7 linked regions of the Homo sapiens genome follow. The protein of the gene in region 3 interacts with the protein of the main gene of each other region in a pairwise test. Each region holds a gene or a part of one and is shown on either strand. Other genes may lie near its edges.

Region 1 (2,299 bases), on a different chromosome or scaffold from region 3:
AGCTGCGGTGGCCCAGTCTGAGCAGCAGGGTGAGGCGGCCCTCAGTGATGCCCGCTGCAAGCTGGCCGAGCTGGAGGGCGCCCTGCAGAAGGCCAAGCAAGACATGGCCTGCCTGATCAGGGAGTACCAGGAGGTGATGAACTCCAAGCTAGGCCTGGATATCGAGATCGCCACCTACAGGCGCCTGCTGGAGGGCGAGGAGCAGAGGTGGGTCCAACCCAGCCCTAAGCACTCCACTTGCATAGACCTGCCCACCTTTGATTTTTCCCTATCTCAGTCTCAGTCCCCAGGTGACATTCTTGCCTCTATGGATCCCAGATCCATATCTTCAAGTTGTCTCATTCTCAACTCTTCCAAGATCCATACCCTGCCTGGTTTCTTGGACATCACCTATTCTAGGGCAGGGTTGCTGGCCAAACTCCACCCCTGACCTCGTCTTCCCAAGAGGGCCTTCTCCTTCTGAAAGTTGAGCCTATCTAGACCTGACAGATATGGTTGTTCAGGTTGTTCACTGCACAAAGGCAAATAACAGCTGAGAGACAAATAAGAATTGAAATCCAACCATACTCTACTTGCTAAATAGTGTGACCTGACGTTGCTTCAACTGCCAGAAAGGCAACTTTTTCTAAGCTGCACAAGGGAATAAATGTAGGTCAGAAATAGCCCTGAGATGACCCATTTCAGCACCTAGCGGAAATTCGATGACCTCATTCTGACTTCTTTTATCTTCCCCTTCCTTACTTTTTCCCCACTCAGGCTGTGTGAAGGTGTTGAAGCTGTGAATGTCTGTAAGTATCTTGAGCCCTGAAAAGGAAAATGTAGACTGGGGACAAAGGACTTCTTGACTATGAATATATGCAGAGACTTTGGGAGGAGTGTTTCCAATAATTCCCCCAGTAAAGAGGATAGGTTGGTCATGCAGCAAGACAGACTGAGGTTAGCTCGCAGGAAGAACCTCACAGCCTGAATGTGTTGGGGAGGGGAAAAAATAATAAGATGTCATTGCAAGAAGGGACCTCAGATGTCATTCATAACCTTCACCTTATATAGGTGAGAAAGCTGAGGCCCAGACAGAGGAAAGGACTCCCAAAGTCACAAAGCAGAACCAGGACCAGAACCCCGGTCTGCTGGCTCCCAGGCTAGGGTTCCCTCCTTCAGAATAGAACTGGAGGCTCTTTGCATCCTTCCCTGGATGGTCGACACATCAGACAGACCAAAGGAAGGTGGCTGGATGGGATGGCCATCAGCAGGGGTCTCTTGACCCTGCCCTTGTTCCCACAGGTGTCAGCAGCTCCCGGGGTGGGGTTGTGTGCGGGGATCTCTGCGTGTCGGGCTCCCGGCCGGTGACGGGCAGCGTCTGCAGTGCCCCCTGCAACGGGAACCTGGTGGTGAGCACTGGTTTGTGCAAGCCCTGTGGCCAGCTGAACACCACCTGTGGAGGGGGCTCCTGCGGCCAGGGGAGGCATTAAGTGGCCCAAAAGAGAGCCAGGGGAGCCCCTTCTGCCTGCCAGACGTGCCACTGCCCCACCACCAGCTGAAAACAGCAGCACATCGCTGGCTTTTCCCCTTGTGTTCTGAGAATACACCATCGGCTCATTCCCACCAGCGGCTCCTCCCCACCTTTCATCCCACTGGAAAGGGGCCTGTGGCTGGGGAATAGACCCATTCCTTCCCCTGTCTCAGCCTTCAGCCCCTCCCGGGGAGAAGGGCCTTGCTTCCCTGGAAGAAGCACTGTGAGACTGTTCCCCCTGCCTCTCTGGCCTCTTGTCTCCCCTTTTCCAATAAACTTGGGGACCTGCTTTGTGTGCTGCAATGTCTTGCTTTCTTGGGGTTCCCCACACCCACCAAGTGGTGAGCACCCCAGCCTGATGATATGGCCTGAAGACTAGAGTCGTTCTGGCCTGTTCTCCGCCTGGACACCCGTAGGGCCTTGTCCCCAGATGGTTCTGTCATCTCCTGGCCAGGCAGTGCTGACTGTGCTCACAGCACCTTCTACCTGTCACACCTGTCAGTCTGGATGGCTCTGAAGGGGACCGAGGAGGCCAGAAGTCAGCCGGAAGGCAGTGCATGTGCATGCGCATGTTTATATGTGTGCACGTGTATGCGTGCTTGTGTGTGTGTTTGAGTTTTGCCCCCTTCTTGCATACACGGTCCCCACTTTCTCTTCCTAGCATATCTTCACTCTGCCCCCCAGCCATCCTTCCACGTAGGTACCACAGCAACAACCACCAAAAGTGCCAGCAGCCACCCTTGGGGGCTGCCCTGTGTCAGTCTGGACCCCACCCCATTGCCACATCCT
Region 2 (3,500 bases), on a different chromosome or scaffold from region 3:
TTCCTGTGTTCACTTATCCATTTGGAGTCTTCCAGCCTCCATAGATGCTCTTGCAGTGCAATTCCTTTTTGTACCTCATACAGGCAACAAAGGAAATTGGTTTATGCCACCCAGTGGCCTTTGGAGAAAACAAACTGGAGGTCAGAGTGACCCCTGGGCGGCCTCGTCAGTAGTTATGCGTTTGGGATGTGTGCAGCTGTGAGATATCCTGACCCAGAGTGTGGTTGGCACAGGGGTCTTTAGCAATTGTGTAGCTCCATGACTGTCCTTGTTCTTTGCTCTTACTGGGTGGGCCTGGACTTAAGTTATGAGTTCCAGTTCTAGGCGGAAGATGTGTTTCTCTAGTAGACTCACTAATGCCTAGCTGTTTCTCTGGGGCTATGCCTCCCAACTCCCCCGCCCCCCACCCTCGGGAGAGGGCTGTGTTTGTAAGGTCTCAGGGCAGTGACGTTCCTGTGATGGCCAGAGGGACCTTTCCCTTTTCTCTGGGCCTGGGGAATCCTGGAAATAGGTTTTGCTGGTGACCACCAGCCAGTCCTGCTGTGTCTTTCCAGTCAGGTGCGCTCCAGTTAGATGGGCAGTGGTTGCCTCCTCAGGGGCAGGGTTGGGAGGGGTGCTGAGGCAGGTGGTTTCCAGGAGCGACCCCACGTGGCAGCGGCAGCAGCAGCGGGACTGCTTTCCTGGCTGTCCCAGGCTCTTTGTCAACATCCACATGTAGATGTGGGGGAGCAGGTGTGGCCCAAATTAATCCTTAAAAGCCTCTGGCGATTAAACTTTAAAGGTCTCAGATAGACACAGAATAATCCCTGGAAAACAATTTGGCATTATCTTGGAAAGCTGATCACATATAGACCCCACAGCCCAGCGATGTGGTTGCCAGATAGATTCCTAGCACAGGGGAATCTGAGAAAAAAATATCGAGTGAAAAAATAAGTTCCAGATGACTATGCGCTTCTGACTTATGTGCTTCTGGTTAAGCTCACACATATGCAAAATAAATAGGATATTATTAGGGATATGTGCTTGTGTGACAAAACTGAATTTTACCCATAGCCATGGTAAGATAATGAGAAACACAACATTCAAGCTACTGGTTGCCTCGGGGTGGGAGATAGGACAGAGCCCAGGACGCAGCCTCCCTGTGGGTCCTGTGGCAGTTCTGAAGTTGAGTGTGGGTTCCTGGCACTCACCGTGTGATGATGACAATTCAGTGATTTCAGTACTTGTCACATACACTGTCTACATTATGCTGAAAACTGAGTTGGTGGAAGGGACCTGCCTCTCTTTGGTGCTACTTGGGGTCCCTGCCTCACACCCGTCTTGTTCCCTGTTGTGGTCTAAAGGCTGTGAGGACACCGTGGCTGAAGCAGGGTGAGGTTCCTGGACTGAGACCTGCAGGCATAGGGAGGGTGCGTGGGAAATGACAGACACTGAGACTGCCATGTTCTCCACCCATAAGAATGGAAAAGCAGAGCCCTGTTGTCCGCGTAGACACTGCTTGGGGGAGGAGTGGTGTGATAAACTAGGAGAGGAGCCCCAGATGGGTATTTTGGGGTTCGATGCTACTGAGAGAGGTCAGATCTTCAGAGAGGGAGGGAGAGCCTGCCAGCCTTATCTGCAACTGCGGAGCCACTTTTCCTGTGCTTGGGGATGCCTTGCTGTTGGTCTCCAGACCCTTGTAGCCCACCTCGCCCACTGCTCAGCTGGGTCCACTTCCAAGGCTCTTGGATGTTACAGGATCCCCCTTGGTCGCCTCTGTAAAGCAGTGACATCTCTCTCCCTACTGGCTTCTGCCTTCCAGGGAGGGGAGGGCTGGGGAGGTGGTGAATGGGGTTGTGGAGGCGTCTCTCTGGTTTGTTGGTTGGGGAGATGCAGGATTCCCGGCCTGGCCTTGGTTTCCCCAATCAAGCCTCCTTTCACCTCCAGCGTTGTAGAAAATCACCTTTTTCCTCCTCTGTTCATCCTGTCTTTTATTAATACCGAGTCTGTGCTTGCGCAAGTGTGTGGTGTGTATAGGGTAGGAGGAGAAATAGTGAGCATGTGCAGGTGAGACTATATTTGAGACTCTCTTACTGCCTCCTCATAGCAGGTCCTGCAAGCTAAGTGCTAGTAACCCCGTATTGCAGGTAACAGCCGAGCAAGGCCCAGGGGTTAATTTCCCAGATGCATCTAGGTAGCCAGGAGTCTCCTCTAGGGCTCTGACTTCAGCCCTGGGCCCCTTGCCACTCAGGCCCCCACATTGTTACAACCCTGAGGGCCTGTTTTGCATAGAATCCAAAGCTTTTCCCTGATGGTGGCTGCACACTAGTAGCACTGCCAGCTGGGGTGTTTGGATGAAGTGAGAAGTCTCTAAAAATCCTGGTATGAAGAACAATGTCAGAGTCAAGGTCAGTGAAGGCATGAAGGAAGTAACTTGCTGCCAGATCGCTTTGAGAGCACATCTCTGAATTTGCTTACTCAGTCATTACACAGATAATCATGTGTCTGACACGGTGCTAGGTGCTGGGTCTCATGTTATATGTGTTACATGCTCTCATAGTCTGGACTAGAAGAGAATGTCTCAGTGTGTCTCTCCTATATATACACGTATGCCTGCACACACGCACACAGAACATGTAGGGTGCATAACTGGGAGCCCCGACCTGGTCTGGAGCCAGGAGAGGAGTCCTGGAAGTGGGGGGATGCTGAAGCTGCTCTTTGAAGCATGAGTAGGTGCTGTCCAGGCATAAAGGCAGGGAATAGCATTCAGGCCCAAGGGAACAGCTCCAGGGAGGCGTTGAAGCCAGAAGCTTACTGAATGTAAGGAAAGTGCAGGCGGTTAGTCTGCAGACAGCCGGAATGTGTTCCTATTCATCCAGGGGAGGGAAGAACAAACAGTTACCTTGTTGCAAAGGACAATTAGAATTGGATTGTCCCTGTCTTCCAAACTGTGGGCAGCTATACCTTAGAGGACCATGAACTCAATTCGCTGAGTTGCAATTAGCATTCAAAGAATAATACTTTTCTACACAAATCTATGGGGAAAAAAAGAGTAGAATACAGAAAGGAAGGCATTGCATGCGCGCAGTGAGGGTAAGAGTATTGCTTCATGAAACTTGTGTGTGTTACGGATGTGTATGCCTGTACTTGGTTTTTGATATGAAATTATTCTCCTGGGTTGTGATCAGAAGCCACCTTTCGAGTTGGTCCGCTGGAGTAGCTCATGCCTCCCCTTTCCTTTATGCCACGGCTGCCACGCCTGCACCTGACCATGGTTGGGGGTTTGAGCTGGGGCCTGCTCACAGCTGGGGGTTATGAAATGCTTCTGTATTGCATTTCCGAACACTGGTGAGGAGTGCTTGGACCTGTGCCCTTTGCTGTCCAGGCTGCAATTTTCTCGTTGAGTATCACGTGAATATTTATGAACAGTCCATTGTGCCAGGCACCATGCCCAGATGTATAAGGCTCAGGCTGCCTTCAGGAGTTTCCCATACAGTGTGGGAGTCAGACGAGACTCTGAG
Region 3 (3,500 bases):
AAGTTAACCATTAAAAAGTCCTGGGCTTGCACAAAGGTTACTTTCTGAATATAAGTAGTATTTAGCAACCATAAATCAGTATATTACTTCCCAGTCAGAAGGACCCAGGAGATGTAAGGGGCCTCAGAATTACTATGAGTCCTCAAATTCAACAACATGTATGTTTCTTGTTGATTTTGAGGTGCAATTTGAATATTCAGCTGTTGATTTCTGCAATGGCTGAATGTTGAAACTACACCTACCATTCTATTGAATATATCAAATGTTATAAGCAGAATGTACACACAAACTTATCCACATGCATGTTCATCACAGAGCTGTTCTAATAGCAAAAAACGAAAAACAAACTCATGTTCCATGTCAGGAAAGGGGTTAAATTAATTACAATTCATATATACCACGGATATCACATCCATTTAAAATGAGGTTGAGGAGGACAGAAAATATAGGAAAGTGTTTTCACAATATAGTTCGTGAAAACATGAGACAAAGTATATACAAAATAATGTCATTTCTGTTAAAAAAAAAAGTTTGCACAGAAAAAAACAAGATTGTACACCAAAATTTCAAGTTAATTTCTGTAGGTGGTAAAATTATAACTGATTTTATTTTCTTCTTAGTGCATTTCTTTGTCTTGCAATTTTTCTACCATAAAGGCAGAGGTTTACAGTCCCTTATCAACAATTCAGAAATCCAAAAAGCTCTGAAAATATATTTTCATAAGTTAGCAGCAGTCATTTAGCTGCAAAACCTGACCTACGCTGATATGAAGCGGCTTCATATTTATCCCATTTAGTCAATATTTACAGGTTTTGCTGTAGAAATACAATGTTTCCAGGGTGCTGCCACAGTCCCACTAGGGACTCAATATACAATATTGAGTCAGCACCCTGAAAACATATCTGGCCCCAAGGTTTCAAACAAAGGATTGTGGACCTGGATTGCTTTGTAACTTTGCCACCATTGCCAATTTTCAGGCTTTTTAAAACTATGGGACTCTTCATAGTTTAAAAGGTTGGGAGCTTCTGCTGTGAATTATTATAAATGTTAAAATGGCAACATCAATAAAAGATATGTCCTTAACAGGGTCCTCACTCTGATTCATCAAGGGTGGCAAGCACCTGGCTCCCATTAGATGATTCTAGCAGCTGAGGGTTACCAAACCCTTGCCATGTGCCAGGCATTATATGCCTTACATCCTTTAGCTCATTTAATGCTGCTTTAGAAGATAGGCACCATCCCAGGCCCATTATATATATGAAGACACAGAGGCGCAGAAAAGTGACTTAATTTGCCTAAGTCACAAGGCAGAGTTGGGTCAGAACCTGATCCTTAGCCACCATAGTATGTCCTCACCACTTAAGTAGGCCAGGAGGCAGTTCTGCTTCCTGGATCAGTGGTAATAATATCACAAACAGATACAACTATCTTGTTTCAAAGCAGAGACAACTGACTTGTTTTAAAAACTCTTTTTTGATTTGTAAACTAAACAAACTTGATCTACAAATTACTGAGAAAGGATAAATATGAAGACATACCATATAATTTCCAGTATTACTACCATTAACTCTAACCACACCAAAGTTATGTGAAGATGTTCTATGAATGTAACATATTATACGATATAATTTTCTCTACCACAGAAAATCTCCCAATAATCCTTTGGAAATCAGTGTGGGAAATATTTTCTGAGAGCTCTCCAAAAAAGAGACCAAGTTCCTACCCACAGGAGAGCCTGATTTTTCTAAGAACAAACTCTCCACTGTCTACTTCTGGGGTTTCCTTAGTGTTTCTGGGCTAAAAACCCAGTAATTTACTTTCCCTATGAAAGACTAGGGCAGAAATAGCCTGGACTTCCTTTTGCAAACCAGAATTCACAGCTGTTTGGGGTGAACAATCCAATGTGGGAAAAAGAACCTCCTGAAGGGATTTTTCTGGCCAAGAATGTAACTTTCACTGGGACCATAACCTCCTATGACCCGTGAACATGCTGAAGCTACTAGATACAAGTCAAATTCTTCAGATCACAAGCTTGTTTCATTGTTTCCTGTCTCTAATTTTTGCAACTAAGAAAGTAAAAACTGAACTTCAATTGGAGGATGCAGGAAAAAGGGAGACCACTGACTTTAAATCTTAAACTTTGTAGTAAATTTTCTTTTCACTGCAGCCTCAACCTTCCACCTTCTGGGCTCTAGCAATTCTCCCACCTTTGCGTCTCTGCCTCCTGAGTAGCTGGGGCCACAGGTGCATGCCATCACACTCAGCTAATTTTTTATTTTTATTTTTTTTGAGATGGAGTTTCGCTCTTTTTTGCCCAGGCTGGAGTGCAATGGCACGATCTTGGCTCACTACAACCTCTGCCTCCCAGGTTCAAGCAATTCTCCTACCTCAGCCTCCCAAGTAGCTGGGATTACAGATGCAGGCCACCACACCCAGCTGATTTTGTATTTTTAATAGAGATGGGGTTTTACCATATTGGCCAGGCTGGTCTCTAACTCCTGACCTCAGGTGATCCACCCGCCTCAGCCTCCCAAAGTGCCGGGATTACAGGCGTGAGCCACTGCGCCTGGCCTAGTTTTTTTATTTTTTGTAGAAACGAGGTCTTGCCATGTTGCCCAGGCTGGGTAAATTATCTTTAATTCTAAGTAAATGCCTTACTCAGTTTAAGATTAGGCACCTTCTAGATTTTTACATATAAAGTAACTACCACAAAAGTCATTTCCAAGCATGTTACCTTTTTTTGTTTCCTTTTGTTTTTTAACATGGGAACCACACTCTGCTTTAGAGAAAGCAAAAATGTAAGTACAGCAATTCCAAAATGCAGGAACAGGGCTGCCCTCCCAACAAAATCACACTTAAAGGGAGTATTTTAAGACATTCTTGGCTGGGCGTGGGGGCTCACACCTGTAGTAATTCCAGCACTTTGGGAGGCCGAGGCAGGCAGATCACTTGAAGTCAGGAGTTCGAGACTAGCCTGGCCAACATAGTGAAACCCCTGTCTCTACTAAAATACAAATATTCGCCAGGTGCAGTGGTGCATGCCTGTAATCACAGCTACTCAGGAGGCTGAGGCACAAGAATTACTTGAACCTGAGAGGCAGAGGTTGCAGTGAGCTGAGATTGCACCACTGTACTCCAGTCTGGATGAAGGAGTGAGACACTGTCTCTGAAAAAAAAAAGAAAAAAAAAAAAGGCCAGGCACGGTGGCTAACGCCTGTAATCCTAGCACTTCCGGAGGCTGAGGGTAGACTGCCTGAGCTCAGGAGTTCGAGACCAGCCTGGGCAACACAGTGAAATCCCGTCCCTACTAAAATACGTGCGCCTGTAATCCCAGCTACTCGGGAGGCTGAGACAGGAGAATCGCTTGAACCCGGGAGGTGGAGGCTGCAATGAGTCGAGATCGTGCCATCGCACTCCAGCCTGGGCGAGAGAGAGAGACACTGTCTCAGAAAAAAAAAAAAAAAAAAAAAAAAAGAAAGACATTCTTGAAAAACTATTTT
Region 4 (2,172 bases), on a different chromosome or scaffold from region 3:
GAGCAGCTTGATACAAAACAAAAAAAATCAGACACAGAGACTTAATCATTAATTATCTGAAAGCTTTCATCAGATGTAGGGATTGTCATATCCATTTCAAACCTGCTGCACGTTATTTCAACAAAATGGTTGCAGGGGAGTTGCTTATGGCTCTGTTAGCTGGGGCTTCCTTTTATTAAAGTGCTGAGAAAAAGAGAGCTATTATCTTTGAGAGATGCTGCTCTCATTTTAATTGTAACTTGGTAAGCTATTTGGCTAGAATGGACTCAGTCTTTTCTCAATGAATATTTCTAACTCAGGCCAGGTCCCTGAGGACACAAGAATTTCCTGAAAAAAAAAAAAAAATTAACCATTACTTACTAGAAAAAGGAAAACTCTGTAGGTAAGAACCCATGGGGTAATGTTTTCAAAGCTAAATCTTATCTTTTCTACCCATTCCCTGTTCCCAGGGATGAGAGTGGGGGTTGGGGTGGGGAGGAAAGAAAACCATTAGGCAGTCCTTTTTTCTTTTTCTTCTTTTAATTTTGTTCAGCATTAAAGGAGGAAACTTCATAAACATTGATTGTCATTTACAGAAAACATTCAGAAATCATGTGTGCATTATCCGGGAATGCTAACAGTATTGAACTAATAATTTACAGGACATAAAATAAGGACAAAAACCTATTACATTCTAAAGTAATATAAAACTCTTTTTTAATTGTTAGGGAGTGCTGTTTTATTCTAGTATATTTATGATTAAAAAAACTCAATACTTACTTCCTAAATGACTCAGGCTGCAGTTTTACTCACATACACAGAAATTAGGGCTTATATATTAAACAAGGAGAGAGAGATCAGAAAATTGTAGATTTTAAAACTATATATGTCACTGGGTTTATTTGTGGTTTGCCTTTTTCCTCTACAGGCCAATAAGAATACATGGTAATAATGTAATTAAACTCCAGAAAAATCAATGGTGACTATAAGAGACATTATTCTTTTAAAAAAGTAGAATTATTATTCTTTTTAGAGTGAATATTTTTATTTTACATACTTGTGGCAATGCAACTTTTATGCATTGCCAACAGTGGTGTGCATGCTAATGAGATGCAAACTGTACCCCTCCCATGCTGCCCCCCAGGCGCAGTAGGTTAGTGGGCACAGCCAAGCCCCAGGCAGCCCACGGTTTCACGGGACTTAGAATCACTCTTCACTTTACAAGCGTAGGCTGGAGCTAAGGTAAAAACATTAAATCTCTGAATGTTGGAAGTATATGAAAATCATTTCTCTCAATCCTAAAAGCAAGGAAGCATTGTTAGGGATTTCAAAAATATTGGAATGTCTCATTTAAATCTAAATATCTTTTTATCATTATAAATCGATCATCATAAAATACTAGCCTTTTAAAGTCATATTTGGGATGCAGGAAAAGCATCAGTTTCAACAACTTGCTCCTGCCTGTGTTGCTATAGCTCATGACACCTTGGATTTTCCTCCCTCTCAGTCTCTCCCCAACCCTCCCCTAGGTTCTTTACAACATTTATTTGGTGAAGGTCAGTTATGGCTTCAGCAAATGAGTGGTCTGACCTCAGGTTATTAACAAGAAATAAATGTGTACAAAAATATCTTGTTCATCAGAAAGCGGAGTTTGTTTTCCTTAAGCTATTCCATGCAGAAAGGATTTGGACAAAGCCATTTGCTACAAGGAAAGATGACTTAACTCAGGCAACTTTTTTTTTTAATTTTCCTTTTTCGTATTTTCTAGTTATAGATGGAGTTTGCAGGTCTTAGGCCAATCTTCAATACAAATTCTTTGGAGCAGATTTAATTGACAGCCCTGTCCCTTTCTCAGTCATATTACAAAAAGAAGCATACACTTAACACCAATGACCCGTCAAGATGCTTAAACTGTTACAACCAGTTTCCATTAAAAAACTGAGAAGTACATAACACGCAGAAAGGAAGCAAGTACATATTTGCTCTTTGTTGATTTTCCCCCTCTAAAAAAATTGTTACAAAGTCTTATGCTTAAACAGAGACATAGAAAAATCAGTGTACTCACCGTCTCCAGTTATTTACAGCAAAAATTACAGAGACAGCATACATTGTATTAGACCTTCCACAAGCATATATTAAAAGTAATTACATTTGAAAAAATATTTTTATTTTTCCTCTACATTTCTACAATAC
Region 5 (3,500 bases), on a different chromosome or scaffold from region 3:
TGAGGTTTCTATCTGGAGTTTCAGGATGTGTTTATCCTTGTATTGCGAAAAAAAGCCCGTCTCTTGCCCAATCTGCTGTCTCGAAGAGATTCTATACTGGTCGTCTGGGTATTCAGCTTTCCTCTTTTTACAATTACACAGGAGACGATTTAAAATCACCAGACGGGGCGGGGTGGGGGAGACGGCCAGTCTATCGCGGGTGCCATTCGCACTTCCTTCGACCCAGAGACTCGGAGGCTTCCTCGACTGCCTCCCAAACGCCACGGGACGGGGCAGAGCAAGCCTGCAGCCCGGTAGAGCAGGAGCCGCAGCCCCAGGACTCCAAGGGCGCGCCCGAAATGGGGTCCCTCAAGCGACCAGTCAGTTCTCCCTCCAGGCACTGAAGCAGGGCGGGGACAGGTGGGGCGGGGTGGGGGACCGGGGTGCTGTTCTGGAGGGTTTGGTGTGCACGCTCTCCCTAGACGCCGGAAGAAAGGAATAGCAAATTTAACGATCAGCCTAATTGTTAGAGAAGGCACCAACTCCTGCCCCGACGGCTGTTCTCCAGGCTAAATGCGATTCTGTTGTGCTATACAATGGGTGAAGCTGTAGATAAAGCTGTCTCTCTCCGACACTCTCCAAAGCAGCCTGCGCGAGAGGGACCCCCACCCTCCGGGCCGGGCGGTAGTGGGCGCCCAGTATCCCTCCACTCGAACTGGGCTGGAAGGAGGCAGGCGGCCACGGGAAATAGAGCCTGTGGCGACTGCGCTGTCGGATCGCAGCGCCCTCCGGGTTATTAATGGGCCTGGAGGAGCCGCCGTGTCTGCGCCTCAGCGCGGATGGCCTGCCCCGAGAAGGTGGCCTCGGCGCCCGCCGGCGCGACCCAGCCTCCTTGGCCCAGCTTCCCTGAGGAGCCACGGCGACCCCGCGCAAGTGTCAGGCTTATGGCACTGAGCCTGACACCTGGCGAGTCCCGCCTGGCAGACACGGTGAAAGCTGGCCACTGATGGATGCGCCAGAGCGGGGCGGCGGGTGGCCCTCGGGGCACCCGGGTACCTGCCGCCGCCAGCCTTGGCCGCAGCCAGGCCTGTTGGATCACCCTGGATGTGCCCTATCTGCGCTGAAATGACCGAAATGCCCAAGAAACTTGTGAGTCTGTATGAAACGTTTGTGTCAGGAACAGCTAATCGCAACCCAGCATGGTAAGGGAGCCCTCGATTTGCCATTTGCTTCACAGCAAAGGAGGGCTGACTATGTAAGCCTCCTGTCTCACTGGAGGGGGCTCTAGCCAGCCAAACCTTTGCCTCAGTCAGCAGCTACTCCTCTACTCCTCCCAAGAGAGCTGGAAGAATGAGGGCTGCAAGCTTCTCAGAAATGTCCCCAGACCTCTGAAGTGAAAAGCAACAACTTGTTTCGGAAAGCAGAGAAGTGTCCATGCCGCTGGGCCTCCCTTGCACAAAGGCCCTCTTCTGTCCTTCCTCTGCCAGCAACACAAACTATTGTTAAAATTCTCCCAGACTCTGCTTTTGACCCCAGGGCCTGGATGGGAGTATTCTCACACTTATCCATATGTCAACTCCTCTGAAACACACACACTTCACACACCCTCTCAAGCTTATTGATTGTGAAAATAAAAACTTCAAGACATTTTGGGAATTACATGAAAGACAATAAACACAATTACAGTGCATACCATGTGTCAGACACCTGTCTAGAACCAAAAACCAGCATATTATCTAAGTATCATGATTCCCATTCTGCAGATAAAGCAATTCCCAAGCACTACTACTCCACCAAGAACCAGAAGCTAGAAAGTGGCAGAGAAAGGATTCACAGTCAAGGCTGCCTGACTGCAAGGCCTCTAAACCCAGAGATTTTTAAAAGACTAATGAAAGCTGGGGAAATTTAACATTCAAACTCATGACTCAATTGAATTGAAATATTTCACTGAAGTAACTTTGGGGGCCATGAAAATTGCTGTAGCATGATTGAGTTATAGAGGTTTCTCTCTTTCCCACACTCTTGTGTTTTCGGACATTAAAGTAAGAGATTGGATAGGAAAATACATAGATAATGTCTATAATTTTGAATGTTACTGTCTGACTTCAGAGACAGCCTTTCAGCACCTTTGCAAAAATAGCTAAAAGCAAATGACAATAAGCAAAGGCAATATGCCCATGGAAATAGAAATAAGTCACTCCAGGGAGTTACTTAACTGATTTTTTTTTCTGCTTGACTCAATGATGCAAATGGTCAGAAGAGTGTTTAGTTTTCATTCCCTAGCAGCCTGTGCCAGAGACAGTCAACTTCCAACATGCTTCTCCACACGTGTCATCCCATCAACGACATCAGCATAGGTACCAACTCCAGCCACTACCTCCATAGACAAAAAGCACACTTCTAATATTTGTAATGCATGATAATAAAACTGTGGCTAAGGCCTTTCTCCAAGAAGTCCTCTAAAGCCGTCTTCAACTTATTGTTTCATTTGTCTCCATAAAGAGTTGAAAAACTTAATAGTAGCATTATGCTACTATTAAAAGTGAAAAACTGAGGCTCTCCCAATATCTAGAAGACTATCTGTGTGTTAGGTCCACAGCAGGCTAGACAAAGTCAATCAACTTTAATTAGTCCACCCAACAGGGGTCTTCTTAATTTGTGAACCACTTCATGCTATATCAAAATATTCTGCCAGAAAAGTTGACCAACTGCCATCAAGATACATGTTATATTCCAATGTTATTTTTTAATACACAAAATCCCCCAGCTGAAACATTTGGGTTCTAACTTATGTCTGAGTCTCAGGGTAGCTTGAGGATATTAAAAACAAGTAACATTTCTTGGGATTGACAAATATGCTTAAGAAGACAAACATTCTAGCAGAGTATAAACACCTACATGAAAAGGTTTGAAAGAGAAGCAGGCTATATGAGAGGACCAAACTATGTATAAATGTATATAATATATGTCATTATATTATATATACACACACAGAGCATTCCAAGCCAAGCAATACATAATACAACTACTTAGGTTCCTAACAAGGAAGCAAGTAAATGTTCATACTTTCTCTTAAAATCAGGGGAAGAGTTTTTGTACAAGTTCATAATTGTTATTCATAAATACTCTTCTATCTTGAGTAAATCTGTCAATGCTCCTGTCTAAGCGTCTCTGAGTAAAGGAAGGTGCTGTCATTAGGTTACAGACTTGTTCGCCTCCTGGCATCAGAAGGCCAGGCCAAGTGCAGTTAAGAGCAGACTTTCACTCTTCATTTCCTATCCTTCTGTGTTGTTTCAATGTCTTTAAAGTGCAATAGATCTTTACAATATATCTATTTTAAGGTAAAGGCGGCAAAGCAGGCCATGGTTTTCTTTTCTGGAATTTCATTTCTCGTTCTAGGAAAGGTGAAATATAAAACGCTTCCGGGCTTTTGGTGTGTGGAGAGGCCAACAGTCATGTGTAGGCGCGTGGGGAGTGAGAGCTACATCACATCTTCACTCCCCAGTACCTGCCCGACGCCT
Region 6 (3,500 bases), about 24 Mb from region 3:
GGTCAGCTATCTCCTCACTTAATAATCTCAGTACAGCTCTGGTGGAGTCATTTCCTGGAGGTCATTTTAGTAAAAGGACCAGAATCTTGTCCTCTGTAACTCTATGACTTCTCTTGTAAAATACAGAATACCCAAAAGATGGGAGAAGAGAAACAGAGACAATTTTAGGATTATGACACCATCCTTAAATGGTTCCATGAACAGGGGAAACTGCTGCCTGATTTTTTCTTTATGTATGTGAACTTTTCATTGTTAGATGAAACCCAGCGCCTCCTGGAATATTAACTACCCAGTGAAACCTTCCCCTGAAATATGCACTCCTCAGTTTCCCTTTAGCTTCCCTGGCCGCTCACCTCTCTGTGTCTCACACTTCCTGGATCTCATAACTGTCAAGAAAAAGGACTTCAACCTTATTCTTGAAGAGTATCACAAAGCTTCCTGAGGACTGTCCTCTATGGCTTTATCTCTTTTAATTGCCCTGGCTAAGAGGAACCTGGCTCACAGCAGCAGAACTGGACCCGTCCCAACTACTGAATAGAGGGCAGATCCCTTCCATTGCACAGCCCTCCAGAGCGGAAAACACACAGGACCCGTGGCAATGGGGCTAGCACAAGGGGACGCGAGTAGTGCAAGTCAGCTGCAAAGAAATGAAAAGCACGAGGCTGAATGATCAAGTCCACGTTGCTAGAGAAGAAAATAGACAGCAAAAGCTCAGACAATGACAGCCGAAAATCCCACGAATATGTCATGGTATAAAATAAAGTCATGAACCTGCCCCATCCAATCCGTAATCCTTTCTTCCATAAATGAGCCCCACCTCAATGACATTAAGTGCATCCAAACATCTTAACAAAGCATTAGAGTTCACTTTTAGTGTTCCGAGGGCTTGTGCTGAATCAACAACGTCCCCGACTTCGCTGTGCTCTGGGAAGGGGGCAGACATGCGGGAATGGCTGCCCGCGTGCTGGGAAACTTTACTAATGCCAAGAAATGAAATCTTCCGAGCCTTTGAAAGGCCTCCAAGAATGTCAGCACGTACTGCCTGCCCACTCTCTGCTGAATGCCTACTTTGGCTGTCTGCTTAGTACTGAATGTGCCAGACAGGCCTTCATACAAAGACGGAGAGTGTGTTGGGCCCATGAAAGGGGAAGGCACAGCTTTTCTGATGTGAATGGTGAGATTCAAGAAGTAGGTGACGAAAGGGGAGGGCGAGGAGGGGCCCTCAGGAAAGGTATGCATAAAAGACCGAGAGAGAAGAGTTGGCATCCACCTATGTGTTAATAAATTTGTTGTCAAAGCTGGAGATGTATATGGCTGCTGGCCTATGCTCCACGCTTGATGGCATGTCTACATGCCTTGCTTGTGGATTCTCTCTGGATCCAAGGCTCCTGTCATCTGAGAACAAGAATTTCTAAGCCCTGCCAAGGCATATATATGTGTACTTCTATTGGCTTTTCAACTCCAAATATAAATGCTATTTGTACTGTGTGTTATTTGGGATTTTTCTTTTACTCTTTTCACCTCCAATATAGAACAATATTGAGAAATGTTCATTGTCGAACATCTGAATATCTCGGGATTTTTTTTTCCTTAAGCTCACTTTGAAAAAGGAAGAAAAATGTTTTGTATAGTGAACCATGCTCTAACTCTGTAACACTGCTACTCATAATTCCTTGGCACGGCATATCCTGCTAGAGGAAAGAACTCTTCTGGTGTTTTGAGCTTTTCCAAGGAGGCAGTCTGATGTCACTGGTGGCAGATGCAGTGTATATGTATCTGTCTTTTGTCTGCACCATCTGTTTTTCTCCTTACAGTCTATTGTTCAGATTTATGCTTCTCTCTTTCCAGGAAGTGTGCCTTTCCATAAGAGCACGGGCCTTAGGTGATAAAGGGACCGACCCAATATTCTAACACGGTTTCCTTCTCTTCCTTCCCTCCTAGAATCTTATGGCAAGGGCCTTATATGACAATGTCCCAGAGTGTGCCGAGGAACTGGCCTTTCGCAAGGGAGACATCCTGACCGTCATAGAGCAGAACACAGGGGGACTGGAAGGATGGTGGCTGTGCTCATTACACGGTCGGCAAGGCATTGTCCCAGGCAACCGGGTGAAGCTTCTGATTGGTCCCATGCAGGAGACTGCCTCCAGTCACGAGCAGCCTGCCTCTGGACTGATGCAGCAGACCTTTGGCCAACAGAAGCTCTATCAAGTGCCAAACCCACAGGCTGCTCCCCGAGACACCATCTACCAAGTGCCACCTTCCTACCAAAATCAGGGAATTTACCAAGTCCCCACTGGCCACGGCACCCAAGAACAAGAGGTATATCAGGTGCCACCATCAGTGCAGAGAAGCATTGGGGGAACCAGTGGGCCCCACGTGGGTAAAAAGGTGAGTAAATGACTAACTAAATTTTTGTTCCTACTTATTTTTTTTTCCCATTACACTTGGAGCATTTGGAAATGTTCCCAAATTAATAACTTGAAGCTGCCAAGAAGTAGATATAACCAATACCTTAGCTCAGGCATCATGTTTGCATGATTTTGCCATTCATCCATCATTCAGCAAAACTTCTTTGAACTACCATGTGCTGAGTACAGTTGATTTCCAGCCCTCCTAAGTTCCTGTGTCATCCTGGGTTACATGGGTTATTAAACTGTTTCTCTCCATCTTTCTCATATATCAGCTTCTAAGCCTTCACTCTGTGCTCAGATCGTTTCCTATCTTTTCTGTTTCTTCATTGAGTGGAACAAACACCAAATCTCGTACAAGCCTGATGATGCAACAAGGATCCTCCCTTGGCCAAAAGCTGAATCATGACCTCAGTGGCCTGGCTGGACAAGGAACCCACCCAAAGTAGCGAGAGTGAGGAAGCTGGGAGTATGTCATGCTGACCAACTCGTTCTATAGAGTTATCAGCTTAGTTTGACTCATTTAAAAATGCACAGATACTAGTGGAATTGGAATGAAGCCATCCTCCTGTCCTTCAAGTCATTCTTATAATAATGCCTGAGGCAGTGGGTGAAAACAGTGGAGCTTGGATATTTAGGAAGGAATTAATTTAAAAATACAGTGTGGGGAGCTCTGCAACACCCTGTGTAATCCCAAATACTTTAGCAATTTGAGGTCAATAGAAATTCACTAATTGAACAATGAATGTTGAGCATCTAATATATTTTTGATGCTTGTGATACAGTGATTAATTAAAGATAAACAAAGCCCTGGTGATGCTTACATTGCCGTGGGGGAGACAGAAGCAACCAAGAGAATGCTAGGTAGGGACACGTGTTATCAGGAAAATAATGTCAGTGGACTGATCGGGGGTAACACCCACAACCAAGGTGATGCTTATGTGAGCATCACAAAGGAGGGATTTTCTCTTTCATTTGCTGGCAAATTCCAATGGGTCCTACAAGGTTTGGTATTAGGAATGAACAAATTTAACTGGATAAGAAGATATCCCTGAATTACAAGAGGAAAGATGCAATTACATACCAGAAAGA
Region 7 (3,500 bases), on a different chromosome or scaffold from region 3:
TAATTTTTCAATAATGAAATTTTATAAACAAAAACTTTTACTCTACAGGCAGCATAAAATAATGGTATCTGATTCATAGTAAAGCTGTTTGTCACATCTGAACAATTACGACCTCTCACTCTTTGCTCCTTTGCTTGGCTCAGTAGTTTAGAATGTATCTAGGATGTCTTTTTTTTTTGTTTGAGACAGAGTCTCGCCCTGTTGCCCAGGCTGGAATGCAGTGGTGCGATCTCGGCTCACTGCAACCTCTGCCTCCCGGGTTCAAGCGATTCTCCTGCCCCAGCCTCCCAAGTAGCTGGGATTACAGGCGCGCGCCACTACGCCCAGCTAATTTTTGTACTTTTGGTAGAGACAGATTTCACTGTGTTGGTCAGGCTGGTCTCGAACTCTTGACCTCGTGATCCACCCACCTCGGCCTCCCAAAGTGCTGGGATTACAGGCGTGAGCCACCTTGCCCGGCCGTATCTAGGATGTCTTTGGATTAAAGTTCCATGTTCTTATCCAAGGTGTCATCTAGGGGTTCTTAAACATAAAGTAACACTAAGTTGCAGTATAATGACATATTAAATTAAAAATAAGAAAGGTAAACCAGGGGATCCTCAGCCACCTCTAAAACACATTCCATATGAGAATAAAATATTTGTCCTTCACAGTTGCTGTAATTGTATGCTTTCTCTATATAATGAGGAGGCATGTGCTTCATTCTGACTATGCTTCATTTTTATTTGGAGTTGCAAAGTCTTAAATGTGAGTAACGTATGAATTATTATAATAATCTTTGGAATCTGAATTCTTTCTTCCGTTTGGACAAATTCTCTTTTTTTGTGACCACCTGTTCACTCGTCATGTAAGTATATAGTAGGTACCTACAACTTGCTTGCTGGTTGATGGGCTAATTTGATTCAAGTTCTAGATGAGCGCTTGGATAAGAGGGTGGATGACATGCTTGCTGCTGGGCTCTTGGAGGAACTAAGAGATTTTCACAGACGCTATAATCAGAAGAATGTTTCGGAAAATAGGTGAGGATTTGGCTGTTATTCTGACCTACTGTCCATATTTTGCAGACAATCAAAAGACCATAACGCTAATACTGGCTTTGGGTCTACTTGTTTATCAGCCTTCTTTGCAGATGCAGTTTTTTAATCTTTCAGACAGTCCCAGGAGTTAACTTTTCAAGAAAGTAACCTGGTGGGTAGGGGAGGGGAAAATTTCAGAGAATCAGTAACTGCTCAGGATCTCAATTTCCTTATCTGACAGATGAAATGGCTCAACTAGGTCCATCTCCAAAGCCCCTGCTAGCTTTTAGGAGCAATGGCTTATCTGCTGATACCCTCCTGTTCCCAGCCAGGACTATCAACATGGTATCTTCCAATCAATTGGCTTCAAGGAATTTCACGAGTACCTGATCACTGAGGGAAAATGCACACTGGAGACTAGTAACCAGCTTCTAAAGAAAGGTGTGAATTCTTCCATCTAATCTAGTCTTGGACATCTTTGGGTGGCAGGGTACTCTGCTGGTATGGTCTGAGAAAGAGCCAAGGCTTAAAGCGTCCCAAATAGCCTTCAGCTCAGAACTGAGATTTTTGTCCACCAAGTCTGACATTGCACTGCCGTGGCTGACTTTTTCCTGCTGGGCTGGGAGGGCCTGCCTCTCTGCAGGGTAAGGAGTGCTTACCTAGATGTTCTTAAATCTACTGTATCTTTCAGGTATTGAGGCTCTGAAACAAGTAACTAAGAGATATGCCCGGAAACAAAACCGATGGGTTAAAAACCGTTTTTTGAGCAGTAAGTCTCATGTTTTTCTTTATCCTATGGGTCTGTTTTCAATAGAATATAGATGTCCTCAGCTCACCCAGAAAATGAATTTTAGATTCTGGGCCTGTTCTAAGATTTTGGATCTGACCTAAGGGAAGTTCTATAACATAAATGATTATCCAGGGATATTTTCTTGGGATGTCACAAAAAAAAAAAAAATTATTTGCATTGAGGAGTCTGCCTTCTGCCTTGAACAGATGGATACTGGCTGCAAACAGCTAAGAAGAACAGCAGCATCTTTTTTGGAGAGTTGGTGTTCAGGGCTGATTTTTAGCTTCAGTTTTGTACCTGAAGAGCAGTCAGATTTCTGTAGGGAAGATTTCCTAATTACAGTGTTTTTGGGGGGCCAGATGAGTTGTATAAAAAGACACCTTCACCATTTCTCCCAGCGTCTCCACATGGTGCTTCAGATTGCTTCAAATGAAACTTTAGTTGAACAGCATTTTTGAGGGAAAAGAAAGGAAATTCTCATTGATTTGGCCCTGTACTGTGTCTTTGGCACTAAATTTGGTGTTATACATATATTATTGAGTCTTCAAGGTAGGTGTTATTCTTTTATTTTTACAGATAAGAAAATGAAGGCCTAGTGAAGTTAAATAACTTGCCAAAAATCACCCAGCTAGTCGGCAGTAGATAACTGAATGCAGGCCTGACACAGAGTCCACACTCCTTTATACTACTCTTACTTCCTTTAGCTGTAACTTTAGCAAGACAGCATTAGTATTGGACCATGGGTAAAAACTATGTGGTTATGAGCTAAAGGAGATTAATTTAAGCATAAGTGAAACTTCAGTTTTATCTTGTGGACATGTTTTAAATATGCTTCTGAATCATCTTGTGTTTACCTTTTGCTGGTAGACTTCTGCTCTCAATTACAGACAGGGCCAGCTGAAGCCTCTGCCCCACTCGGTGCCTCTGAAAATACATACCTTGATCCCTGCTGTTGACCACTAAACTGCTAACATTCTTTCTCCCAGCTCCCACTCTCTGCCTGAGCTCTCCAGTGGAGTTCTGGTGTGAAGAGGCTTGTTGTGCTTTCCTCTACTTATCCTGTTTTCTCTGCATGTCCTGGTAGATAGAAGTCTTAGTGTCATCTGAAGTTGAAGCTCAGTGCTGTATTACAAATTTCTAATGCAGCTTCTCTTATCCCCATGTCTGACAATAAGCCTTTAACAGAAGACTTTTGGGTAATAATTTAGAACTTCTTCCTGTAGTAAAACCACAATAATTCCTCCATCTCTGTGGTAGGAGGAGTTGATGGCACAGTGTGTCATATGCCTGTTCCTCATTCGTGTGTATGCCGGCATCGTCCTGGTGCTGGAGTGAAAGGCACAGCTGCCCTGTAAATCAGGAGCTGTGCGTGATTGGCCAGGGCTGGTCTGCTGGGATATGGTTCTGGCAGGAAGCCAGGGGGACTTCCCCACCCCAGCATGGCCTTGGACCCAAGCCAGAAATAGCAGCTGGGAGCCGAGAACTTGTTGAAAGGTGCTTAGACAGGGCACAGAAGCCCAACAAAGGGCTTAGAGGAGAAAGGAAAATGTAGAGTGGCCTGGAAACAGGTGCAGAGCTTAGCCAAGGCCAGGTGTGCTGTGGATGCTGCCTGCACCCTCCTAGTCTCACCTTTCCTGTGGTAGCAGGTGCAGCCCAGTCCAGTTTATGAAGAATCTTATTTGGGGTTGGCACAA

Evidence for each region.
Region 1: the proteins of ANKS1A (region 3) and KRT83 interact in a two-hybrid assay, tested with the Homo sapiens proteins (one large-scale study listed by BioGRID).
Region 2: the proteins of ANKS1A (region 3) and ARHGAP10 interact in a two-hybrid assay, tested with the Homo sapiens proteins (one large-scale study listed by BioGRID and IntAct).
Region 4: the proteins of ANKS1A (region 3) and RORB interact in a two-hybrid assay, tested with the Homo sapiens proteins (one large-scale study listed by BioGRID).
Region 5: the proteins of ANKS1A (region 3) and PRDM6 interact in a two-hybrid assay, tested with the Homo sapiens proteins (one large-scale study listed by BioGRID).
Region 6: the proteins of ANKS1A (region 3) and NEDD9 interact in a two-hybrid assay, tested with the Homo sapiens proteins (one large-scale study listed by BioGRID).
Region 7: the proteins of ANKS1A (region 3) and TRIT1 interact in a two-hybrid assay, tested with the Homo sapiens proteins (one large-scale study listed by BioGRID and IntAct).

The regions. Positions count from the first base shown.
Region 1 is NC_000012.12:52,313,801-52,316,099, reverse strand, and holds the end of KRT83 (keratin, type II cuticular Hb3), read left to right. Parts: coding exon 1-207; intron 208-756; coding exon 757-788; intron 789-1,281; coding exon 1,282-1,469; 3' UTR 1,470-1,799; downstream 1,800-2,299.
Region 2 is NC_000004.12:148,067,588-148,071,087, forward strand, and holds part of ARHGAP10 (rho GTPase-activating protein 10), read left to right. Parts: intron 1-3,500. UniProt on the Homo sapiens protein: GTPase-activating protein that catalyzes the conversion of active GTP-bound Rho GTPases to their inactive GDP-bound form, thus suppressing various Rho GTPase-mediated cellular processes. Also converts Cdc42 to an inactive GDP-bound state.
Region 3 is NC_000006.12:34,895,755-34,899,254, reverse strand, and holds part of ANKS1A (ankyrin repeat and SAM domain-containing protein 1A), read right to left. Parts: intron 1-3,500. UniProt on the Homo sapiens protein: Regulator of different signaling pathways. Regulates EPHA8 receptor tyrosine kinase signaling to control cell migration and neurite retraction.
Region 4 is NC_000009.12:74,691,506-74,693,677, reverse strand, and holds the end of RORB (nuclear receptor ROR-beta), read right to left. Parts: 3' UTR 501-2,172; downstream 1-500. UniProt on the Homo sapiens protein: Nuclear receptor that binds DNA as a monomer to ROR response elements (RORE) containing a single core motif half-site 5'-AGGTCA-3' preceded by a short A-T-rich sequence.
Region 5 is NC_000005.10:123,095,741-123,099,240, reverse strand, and holds part of PRDM6 (putative histone-lysine N-methyltransferase PRDM6), read right to left. Parts: intron 15-3,500; exon of another isoform or gene 1-14. UniProt on the Homo sapiens protein: Putative histone methyltransferase that acts as a transcriptional repressor of smooth muscle gene expression.
Region 6 is NC_000006.12:11,212,169-11,215,668, reverse strand, and holds part of NEDD9 (enhancer of filamentation 1), read left to right. Parts: intron 1-1,941; coding exon 1,942-2,388; intron 2,389-3,500. UniProt on the Homo sapiens protein: Scaffolding protein which plays a central coordinating role for tyrosine-kinase-based signaling related to cell adhesion. As a focal adhesion protein, plays a role in embryonic fibroblast migration.
Region 7 is NC_000001.11:39,845,505-39,849,004, reverse strand, and holds part of TRIT1 (tRNA dimethylallyltransferase isoform 1 precursor), read left to right. Parts: intron 1-907; coding exon 908-1,019; intron 1,020-1,257; exon of another isoform or gene 1,258-1,344; coding exon 1,345-1,457; intron 1,458-1,707; coding exon 1,708-1,785; intron 1,786-3,500. UniProt on the Homo sapiens protein: Catalyzes the transfer of a dimethylallyl group onto the adenine at position 37 of both cytosolic and mitochondrial tRNAs, leading to the formation of N6-(dimethylallyl)adenosine (i6A37).